Regions from separate parts of the Homo sapiens genome. Here region 1 is linked to region 2. The links come from fine-mapping of genetic effects on gene expression. A gene starts in region 2. The other region holds a variant in brackets. All regions are shown on one strand. Distances are between the middles of the regions.

Evidence for each region. PIP is the estimated chance that this variant, and not a neighbour inherited with it, causes the effect.
Region 1: its variant is fine-mapped to the expression of GRN in whole blood (INTERVAL, PIP above 0.99).

The regions. Positions count from the first base shown.
Region 1 is chr17:44,291,014-44,296,390 of GRCh38, forward strand. It overlaps the pseudogene RN7SL507P. Among named protein-coding and RNA genes, the nearest start is that of RUNDC3A-AS1, 15 kb to the right of the region's middle. The variant GCA/G (reference allele first, on the strand shown) is at 2,136.
Region 2 is chr17:44,342,730-44,348,106 of GRCh38, forward strand. GRN (granulin precursor) reads left to right here and starts at 2,573. Exons shown (of 13, transcript NM_002087.4): 1 at 2,573-2,605. RefSeq lists enhancers at 619-1,544, 2,696-2,845.

The sequences.
Region 1 (5,377 bases), 52 kb before region 2:
GGTCACTATATCGATGCTGAACTTAGTGTGGACACCCGATCTGCATAGCGCACTACAGTCCAGGACGGGCCTCAAGCAATCCTCCTGCTTCAGCCTCCCAAGTAGCTGGGACTATAGGCTCACATCACCTCACCTGGCTCAATAAGCATCTGAAAAAATAGCCAATCTCATTAATATGCATGAATATACCAACTACAGTAAAATGTCTAACAACAATATTCAAAGTCAGGGACAGAAGAAATGGAAGTATACTGTTATAAGTTTCCTTTGTAACATCTTTATTGAAGTATAATTCACATGCCATAAAATTCACCCATTTAAAGTGCACAATTCAGTGGCTTTTATTACTCCCCGAGTTCTACAACCACTACATTCTAAGTTTAGAGTATTTCCATCACTCCAAAAAGAAATTCCATGCCCATCAGCCATCACTCCTCATTCCTCCCTCCAGCCCTAGGCAACCATTAATATTGTTTCTGTCTCTATAGATTTGCCTATTCTAGACATTTCATGTAAATAAAATCATACAATATAGGCTGGGCGCTGTGGGTCATGCCTGTAATCCCAGCACTTTGGGAGGCTGAGGTGAGCAGATCACCTGCGGTCAGGAGTTCGAGACCAGGCTGGCCAACATGGTGAAACCCGTCTCTACTAAAAATACAAAAATTAGCTGGGCATAGTGATAGGAGCCTGTACTTCCAGCTACTTGGGAGGCTGAGGCAGGAGAATCGCTTGAACCTGGGAGGCGGACATTACAGTGAGCAGAGACTGTGCCACTGCACTCCAGCCTGGGCAACAAGAACAAAACTCCATCTCAAAAAAAAAAAAAAAAATCATACAATATAGGTTTTTTGGTGGCTGGCTTCTTTCACTAACCATGATATTTTCAAGGTCATCCATGTTGTAGCATGTATCAGTATTTCATTCCTTTTTATTGCTGAATAATATTCCATTGTATGCATATAATACATTTTGTTGGTCCATTCATCAGCTGATGGACTTTTGGGTTGTCTCCACTTTTTGGCTATGGTGAATGATGCTGCTTCAGGGGGTATTCCTGATGGGTCTGAGCCCCTGGTTTCCATATCCATTCAGATCATGGTTTTGCTGCAGTTGCCCATTCAGTTATCATCACTCATGGAGTCAACACGAGGTGACCAGTCAATCCCCTGAGGTCTAGATTTATTCTTTCTGCACCCATTATATAGCAGCAACCCTGTCTCCTCATGATAATCAGGGTTGATTACCCTGCCAGGAGAGTAGCTTCTTTTTATTTTGTCTGCTGATCTACTGGCCCGAGGAGCTCAAAACGATCATAAGGCAGCCATAGCTTCAGTTTTAGTGGAATCCTTACTGAGTGGCCTGGTAGAAGCATTCCCTTCACCTACCCTTGGGAATCAGGATCACCAATCATGATCACTAGTCTACCAAAGTATAAAGTGGCAGGAGGTAAAGCTGGACACCGTGGTGCACACCTGTAGTCCCAGCTACTCCGGAGGCTGAGACAGGAGGATCACTTGAGCCCAGGAGTTCAAGACTGTTTTGTGTGATAATCCTGCTGGTAAATAGCCACTGCAGTTCAGCCTGGGCAACACAGCAAGCAGCTGTCCCTCTCTATTTTTTTTTTTTTAAAAGGCAGGGCTCAGTGGCTCATGCCTATGATCCCAGCACTTTGGGAGGCCAAGGGAGGAGGATTGTTTGATACCAGGAGTTTAAAACCAGCCTGTGCACCATAGTGAGACCTTGTCTCTACAAAATTAAAAAAAAAAAAAAAAAGTAGTGTGGGTGAGAAACATATATTTCCCAGTGGGTTCCTGGGAAGGATGGTGAGGGGGATCACTCCAACTTCTATTCCTAGGTTCCTGGAACCATGTATTCTAGCTATAGCAGACACAGCACCATATAATGACCATTAGTTCCAAGTAGATACTGTAGCTTTTTTTTTTTGAGACAGAATCTTGCTCTGCCACCCAGGCTGGAGTGCAATGGCGCAATCTCAGGTCACTGCAAGCTCTGTCTCCCGGGTGCGGTGGCTCATACCTATAATCCCAGCACTTTGGGAGGCCAAGGCAGGAAGCTCGCTTGAGCCCAGGAGTTCGAGACCAGCCTGGGCAACATAGCAAAACCCTGTCTCT[GCA/G]CACACACACACACACACACACACACACACACACACACACAATTAGCCAGACACGGTGGTGTGTGCCTGTTGTCCCAGCTAGTTGGGAGGCTGAGGTGGGAGGATCATCTGAGCCCAGGGAGGTCAAGGCTGCAGTGAACCATGATCACTCCATTGCACTCCTGGGCAACAGAGCGAGGTCCTGTCTCAAAAATAAATAAATAAATAAAAATAAAAAGAAGCTGAAGGACATCTACTGACCAGGCTATCTTGTCCGCCCGGTTGCTTAGTACCCCTTCTGCAAAGGATGCTCACCGTGGGGTACCAATAGAGACATAGTGCAAACTTTGTGCTCACTCCAGCAAATCCATCCATTTGTCCTCCCCTCACAAAAACCCGTCTCAGATCTTCCAGCCTTGCTCCTTCTAGGTCTCTGACCTATCAGACAAGACTCTGGCCTCTACCTAGTAATCTGTGTATATCCTTAGCTCAAAGCCCTTTTCCTTCCACCTTATGTTGCTGACCAGGTGCTAATGTCAGCAGCTCTGTCATCAAGGGGGTTTCCCCTCACCACTGCCTTTCAGGGCCACCCTTGACTGTGGCTGTGATGTGGCTGAAGTTCATTTTCAGTCCACACCAACCTAGGAAGCCATTTTATCTGTAAATTAGATCTGGGGCTTTTTTTCCTCCTCTGTCAACTGGTGATAAAGAACTCCCCATGAGGCCAAAGGTGTGAGTTGAGGGAGAGACATAGCTGCAACAGGGATACGTGCCCTGGGGGTCTGGCTGCCTGTTCATGTAACTTACTTGTGCGCTTTAGGCTGAGTAGTCCTCATCTGGAATGCACCATTTCCATGGTAGGATGGATTATTGCTGCACCTGCTCAACTGTGTCACTTGGTGTATCTGACAGTTCCCGCTTCGCAATGGGCAGCTCTGATCACATCACCATACCTGTCCAATGGTCAGGTCTCTGCAGCACAACCGAAGACTTCTTTTTTTGAGACAGAGACTTGTTCTCTTACCCAGGCTGGAGTGCAGTGGCACAATCTCGGCTCACTGCAACCTCCACTTCCTGGGTTCACGCCATTCTCGTGCCTCAGCCTCCCGAGTAGCTGGGACTACAAGCGTGCACCACCACACCTGACTAATTTTTGTATTTTTAGTAGACAGGGTTTCACCATGTTGGCCAGGCTGGTCTCGAACTCCTGACCTCAGGTGATCCCTTGACCTCCCAAAGTGCTGGCATTACAGGTGTGAGCCGATGCACCCGGCCAGAAGATTATTTTTTAAAACCGGAACAGTCCTCTGCTGTAGATGGCATGGCCTTGCTCCAGAACCTTCTGGGCTTGCCAGAGACTCCCCAAAGCATCCTATGAATCATAGATAGATGGCATCTGCTAGGCTATATGAGCCCAAGTGGCAGGGAACTTTGCATTTTGGCCTGGACTGAAAAAAACCTCTCTTGTTGTGGGCCCCACTCAAAACCAGCAGCCTTCGGAGTTCCCTGAAAATTAGTTGGAGCAGTATTTCCAAGTGTGGCATGTGCCATCTCCCATATCTGAAGGGGCTTGCCAGGCTTTGTGCATCTTTCCTAGGGATAGGAGACACATGGTGGTGCCAGTTCACTGGACTCTGACAAATTTTGCAAAGATCCTTGAGTCTTTGTAGGATTTATCCTCCAACCTCTGGCAAGCACGTGCCTTGCCACTTTCTGTTCACCAGGTTCCATTAGCTCAATGTCGTCGGTACAATGGATTGTGTGATGTTGTGTGGAATGCCAAGATGATCAAGGTTTCTGCTCTATTATGACAGAAAGCAGGACAGTTAACATAGCCCTGGGGTAAGACTGTGGATGTGGACTTTTGTCTGTCCTCAGGGAAAGGAATCGGCTTTTTTTTTTGAGACTGAGTCTCGCTATGTTGCCCCCGCTAGAGTACAGTGGCTCGATCTCGGCTCACTGCAACCTCCCTCTCCCGGGTTCAAGTGATTCTCGTGCCTCAGTCTCCTGAGTAGCTGGGATTACAGGTACCCACCACCACGTCTGGCTAATTCCTGTATTTTTAGTAGAGACAGGGTTTCACCATCTTGGTCAGGCTGGTCTCAAACTCCTGACTTCAAGTGATCTGCCTGCCTTGGCCTCCCAAAGTGCTGGTATTACAGGCGTGAGCCACCGAGCCTGGCAGGAATCTGCTTCTAATCTTACTTCCTTCAACAAATTAACAGTCATGGACTAAATGGCAGGGACTCTGTTGATCTGTTCTAAGAAAGCTAACACATCTGGCACAGCACTCAATCAGGGCGCCACTTGGTTATGTGCACCCTCATCTACAATGATCCATCTGGTTTTTGCAAGAGCCAGATTGATGAATTAAATGGGGATATCCTGGGAACCACCACTTTTATATCCTTTGTGAGTGACTCCAACCACTGCCATTCCACCTGGGCTGGGGCATTGCTTCTGATTAACTCTCTTGGGAGGGAGATGAGGAAGCAATTTCTAATTGGCCTTTCCTACCCTAATGACTCTTATTTCATTCTTTTTTTTTTTGGAGATGGTTTCATTATGTCACACAGGGTGGAGTGCAGTGGTACAATCTCAGCTCACTGCAATCTTGACCTCCCTGGCTTAACCAATCCTCCCACCTCAGTGTCCTGAGTAGCTGGGACTACAGGAGTGTGCCACGATACCCAGCTAATTTAAAAAAATTTTTTTGTAGAGATGAGGTTTCACTATTTTGCCCAGGCTGCTCTCAAACTCCTGGGCTCAAGTGATCCTCCCACCTTGGCCTCCACACTTGGGATTACAGGTGTGGTAATGGCTCTTATTTCAGGAAACCAACGCGAGAGATCTGCTATCTACTAAGTACCTCTATTCCACTATGTATTCAGGGGCCAGGGAAATAACCATCAAGCAGACTGATGGGCCAGATCTCCTTTCATCACCTGGCCTCCATATGCCCCACACTAATACATGCCCATGATGGCATTTTGGTTCCTTAATATTAGTGTCAGTTCCAACTCTGTATCCAAAAGCCTTGAAAGATCTGAGTATTTCCCTTTCCCCAGGATGCAGTTGCTCTGATAAGCAGCTGTAAGTACCTTTGGGGGAAGAATAGGATAATTACCATGATATAAACTTGCCATGGCATTGTAGGATTCTTCCTGAAGGGAACTGGCCCCCACTTCAATGAAAGGGCTCTATATTTGGCCACGTTTGGTGGCTCACATGTGTAATCCCAGCACTTTGGGAGGCCGAGGT
Region 2 (5,377 bases):
GGTTAGGGAGGGTGACTGCTAAAGGACATAAGGCTGCCTTCTGTGGTGATAAAAATGGTCTTAAACTGATTGTAATGATGCTGCATAACTCTCTTAAGACACTAAAAACCATTGAGTTGTACACTTTAATTTTTTTGTGTTGGCGGGGGTGGATGGAGTCTCGCTCTGTTGTCCAGGCTGGAATGCAGTGGCACGATCTCGGTTTACTGCAACCTCTGCATCCCGGGTTCAAGCGATTCTCCTGCCTCGGCCTCCTGAGTAGGGAATTACAGACCTCGTTATCGTGGCACCTTACCCTTCTGATGTTAAAAAAAAAAAAAAAAAGAGCGAGAGAGAGAGAGAGAAACATTTGTGAAGTAGGTTGTTGAGTCTCAGCACTATTGACCTTTTGGGCAGGATACTTCTTTGTTGTGGGGGATTGTTCTGTGTGTCGTGTGATGTTTAGTGGGATTGCTGGCCCTTACCTACCAGATGCCAGTGTCCCTCCACCCTGAGTTGTGACAACCCAGATTGTCTCCAGACACTCCTAAATGTCCCTGGCCGGCAAAATTGCCGCTGCTCAAGAATCACGGCTTTGACGATTAGACTTTGTGATATTTGTTTCAGTCTGTTTAGGTTTTTTTTCTTCTACCTGTATTTTTTTCTGGTTCTGGGTGGTTGTAATTAGTAGGTTATTGATCGATTCACCTAACATTTCATGAAAGTTTCATGTGTGTGTGTGTTTCAATAGAAGCATAAACTATACTCCCTAGTCTCAAGATACACAGGAAGGAAAATAAGCACAAATGTGTCACCAGGGCACAGACTAGTACTAGGTCCTCAGCAGGCCAGGTGTCTTATCCGCTGTCTGGGTCTGCTCTAGCTCCAGGCTTAGAACCCCTGCCACACGACTCCACAGCTCGGTTGGCACCCTTTCCCTCCTCCGACTTCTGCTGCCTCGAGCTTGGTTAGCCATCCCCCTGCCCCTGCCTCATCCTCAGCTCCAGTTCCTTGCTCAGGCTGCAGCAGTCTCCATCCCCTGTGCAGACACTGCCGTTCCTCCACGGCCCAGTATCAGGCTTTCCCTGGGCCTCTCCTCTCTCCTGGCCCATCTCCCATCATCCATCTCTGCCTGGCCCAGGCCCTTTGGCACCAAGCAGGCTGACTCTTGTCACTGGCTAATCTGTTCTGTGGTACATTTTCTCTCCTCACCCTCCCATATCAATTCCTCGAAGGCAGGGCCGATCTGGAGACTAGGAAGCCACTTCTCTTTCGACAGCCCCCACCACAGCCCAGCCCGTGCCAGGCACCCAGCAGCTCCTGAAGCCCACTGGCATTGAACATGGCATTCAATCCCTGCCAAGCCTGCCCTTCCCATCTGGTTTCCCAGGGCTCTTCCCAACACCTCCTCCTCCACCTGCCAGTTAAAATCTTCCCAGACTCAGCTCAAGGAGATGCTCCTAAGGTGGAATGAAATCTCTTCTTCCCCACCTGGAGACAATCTACTTCCTCTCCCTACACCTGGCAACTGGCGCACAACCTTGTATCTTAAATTAGATTCAGCCTGAGACTGTCTCCCACCAATCCCTGCTCCCTGTCCTGCTGAGCACCTTGAGGAAAGGGCTTTGGGGCTGTTTATCTTTGTCCTGGAAACCATCCTTCAACTCACTCTGGGGCCTGCCTAGCATGTCAACCGAGTTTGGAGAATAGGGCAGAATAGGGCAGGACAGGACAGGACAAGACAGGGCAGGATAGGATAGGAGCGAGCCAGCTCAGTAGCTCACATTTGTAATCCCAGCGCCTTGGGGGGCTGCGGTAGGAGAATCGCTTTGGGAGCAGGAGTTGCAGGCCGCAGTGAGCTATGATCAGCTTGGGCGACTGAGCGAGACCCTGTCTCTAAAACAAACACACAAGTCCGGGCGCGGTGGCTCATGCCTGTAATCTTAGCACTTTGGGAGGCCGAGGTGGGCGGATCACGAGGTCAAGAAATCGAGACCATCCTGGCCAACATGGTGAAACCCCGTCTCTACTAAAAATACAAAAATTAGCTGGGCGTGGTGGTGCGCGCCTGTAGTCCCAGCTACTCGGGAGGCTGAGGCAGGAGAATCGCTTGAACCCGGGAGGCAGAGGTTGCAGTGAGCCGAGATCGTGCCACTGCACTCCAGCCTGGCGACAGAGTGAGACTCCGTCTCAGAACAAACAAACAAAAGGATAGAAAGGCGAGCACAAATATTCCCAATTCATAACACTCCCTCGCACTGTCAATGCCCCAGACACGCGCTATCATCTCTAGCAAACTCCCCCAGGCGCCTGCAGGATGGGTTAAGGAAGGCGACGAGCACCAGCTGCCCTGCTGAGGCTGTCCCGACGTCACATGATTCTCCAATCACATGATCCCTAGAAATGGGGTGTGGGGCGAGAGGAAGCAGGGAGGAGAGTGATTTGAGTAGAAAAGAAACACAGCATTCCAGGCTGGCCCCACCTCTATATTGATAAGTAGCCAATGGGAGCGGGTAGCCCTGATCCCTGGCCAATGGAAACTGAGGTAGGCGGGTCATCGCGCTGGGGTCTGTAGTCTGAGCGCTACCCGGTTGCTGCTGCCCAAGGACCGCGGAGTCGGACGCAGGTAGGAGAGCGGCCGCGCAGACCTCTCGCCTGCTCCTGCCCAGGGGCCCGCCAGGGCCATGTGAGCTTGAGGTTCCCCTGGAGTCTCAGCCGGAGACAACAGAAGAACCGCTTACTGAAACTCCTTGGGGGTTCTGATACACTAGGGGGAGTTTTATGGGAAAGAGGAAGCAGTAATTGCAGTGACGCCCCGTTAGAAGGGGCTTTCTACCTCCCCAGCATTCCCCCAAAGCAGGGACCACACCATTCTTGACCCAGCTCCACCCCTGTCGGTAGGTGCTGGCTTCTTCCCCTCTCCTGGTGGTGGTGGGTGGTTCCCGCGGCGGCCTGGAGCCGGAGGGGCGCGCGACCCTGGGCTGGGAGCTCCGAGGGCCTGGGAACGAGACCTGAGACCTTGGCTTCTCGAAGGTAGTAGGGACTTGGGAGTGGTGACTGAACCTGGTCTGGCTCCTCCTTACTTCCTCTTGTTGCGGGTGGGACGAGCTAGCTTCCGCCTCTCCCAGCCACTTTTTCCTGCTCATTTGCAGCTAGGTTGGCTCCCCTTTTGGGAATTTCCTCTCCCCTTGGCACTCGGAGTTGGGGGGTGCCACCTAGTGGAAGATAACGGAGCTAGGGTCTTGAAGAGGCTGCTGTCCCCTCTGGCTGTTTTGGCGGTGTAGGGTGGCATGAGAGACTGCGACTCGCCTCCTCATCCCTGTTTCTGTATGCGAGTGCTTGTATTCAGTAGAAGCATACACTATACTCCCTCAATTTAGGGTAAACAGGAGGGGCCACATGCACAGGTAATTCACCAGGGAGCCGAACACTCCTGTGCAGACAGACTCCCCTTCCCAGCAAGCCATGGCAGCGGACAGCCTGCTGAGAACACCCAGGAAGCAGGCGGTGCCAGCTGCAGGTGCTTTGCCTGGGAGCTGTGGGGCTGAGGAGAGGGTCCACTGTCCAGGACCAGTGAACTTCATCCTTATCTGTCCAGGAGGTGGCCTCTTGGGGATGCTGAGTTAGGGGAGGGGCACTTGAGGAAAGCCAGGTGGAGCAGAGAGGATGTGAGTGACTGGGTGGGTGAGATTTCCTGCCCCTCCCCCCGCAGTGGTATCCACACCTAGACTCGTGGGGTAACTGAGGCACAGACAGAGAGCAACTTCTCAGGCCCTCACAGTTGGCAATTCTAGGATTAGGACCCAAGTGCGATTTTCAGGCAGTCCCTGTACCCTGTTTCTGTTGTACCTGTTGCACCATTCCCAGGCACTGCCCATCGTGCCACTAGTGATATGAACCCAGGTCCAATACGCTCTGGGGCCATCAAAGCCTGACGTCACCATGACCTGATGTGTGACGTGTTATAGGTGTCCCTTGGTATCTTCACGGAACTGGTTCCAGGACCCCAAAATCTGTGGGTGCTCAAGCCCCTGAGATAAAATGGTGTAATATTTGCATATAACCTATACATACTTTAAATCATTTCTAGATTACTTATACCTAATACAATGGAAATGACATGTCGGCTGGGCGTGGTGGCTCATGCCTGTAATCCCACCACTTTGGGAGGCCGTGGCAGGTGGATCACCTGAGGTCTGGAGTTTGAGACCAGCCTGACCAACATGGTGAAACCCCCATCTCTACTAAAAATACAAAAATTAGCCAGGTGTGGTAGCGCACACCTATAATCCCACCTACTTGGGAGGCTGAGGCAGGAGAATTGCTTGAACCTGGGAGGCGGAGTTCGCAGTAAGCTGAGATCGCGCCACTGTACTACAGCCTGGGTGACAGAGCAGGACTCCATCTCAAAAAAAAAAGAGAAAAAGAAAAAGAAATGCCATGTAAATAGTTGTGATCCTGAATTGTTTAGGGAATAATAAGAAAGAACTATCTGTAGATGTTCAGTATAGATGCACCCATCGTAAGCCTAACTACATTGTATAACTCAGCAACGATGTAACATTTTCAGGGGTTTTTTTGTTTTGTTTTTTGAGACAGAATCTCAGTCTCACTCTGTCACCCAGGCTGGAGTATGTTGGCGTGATCTCTGCTCACTGCAACCTCCACCTCCTGGGCTCAAGCGATTCTCCTGCCTCAGCCTCTTGAGTAGCTGGGATTGCAGGTGTGCGCTACCACGCATGGCTAATTTTTGTATTTTTAATAGAGATGGGGTTTTACCACGTTGGTCAGGCTGGTCTTGAACTCCTGACCTTGGGATCCGCCCACCTGGGCCTCCCAAAGTGCTGGGATTACAGGCGTTAGCCACCGCGCCCAATATATTTTGATCCCTGGTTGGATATGGAGGGCTGACTGTACTTAACATCTCTAAGCTTCAGTTTCCTCCTTTAAAATAAAGGTGTGGCTGGGTGTGGTGGTTCAAGCCTGTAATCCCAGCACTTAGGGAGGCTGAGGTGGGTGGATCAGCTGAGGTCAGGAGTTCAAGACCAGCCTGACCAATATGGTGAAACCCCCTCTCTGCTAAAAATACAAAAATTAGCCAGGCGTGGTGGCGAGCGCCTGTAGTCCCAGCTACTTGCTTGAACTTGGGAGGCAGAGGTTGCAGTGAGCTGAGATCGTGCCACTGAACTCGAGCATGGGCAACAGAGCAAGACTGTCTCAAAAAAAAAAAAAAAAAGGGGGTGAGCAGACGTGGTGGCACGCTCCCACAGTCCCAGCTACTTAGTAGGAGGCCAAGGTTGGAGGATTGCTTGATCCCAGGAGTCTGAGTCCAGCCTGGGCAACATGGCAATACCTCATCTCTAAAAATAAAATAAAAGTAAAGGTATTAATTACTACT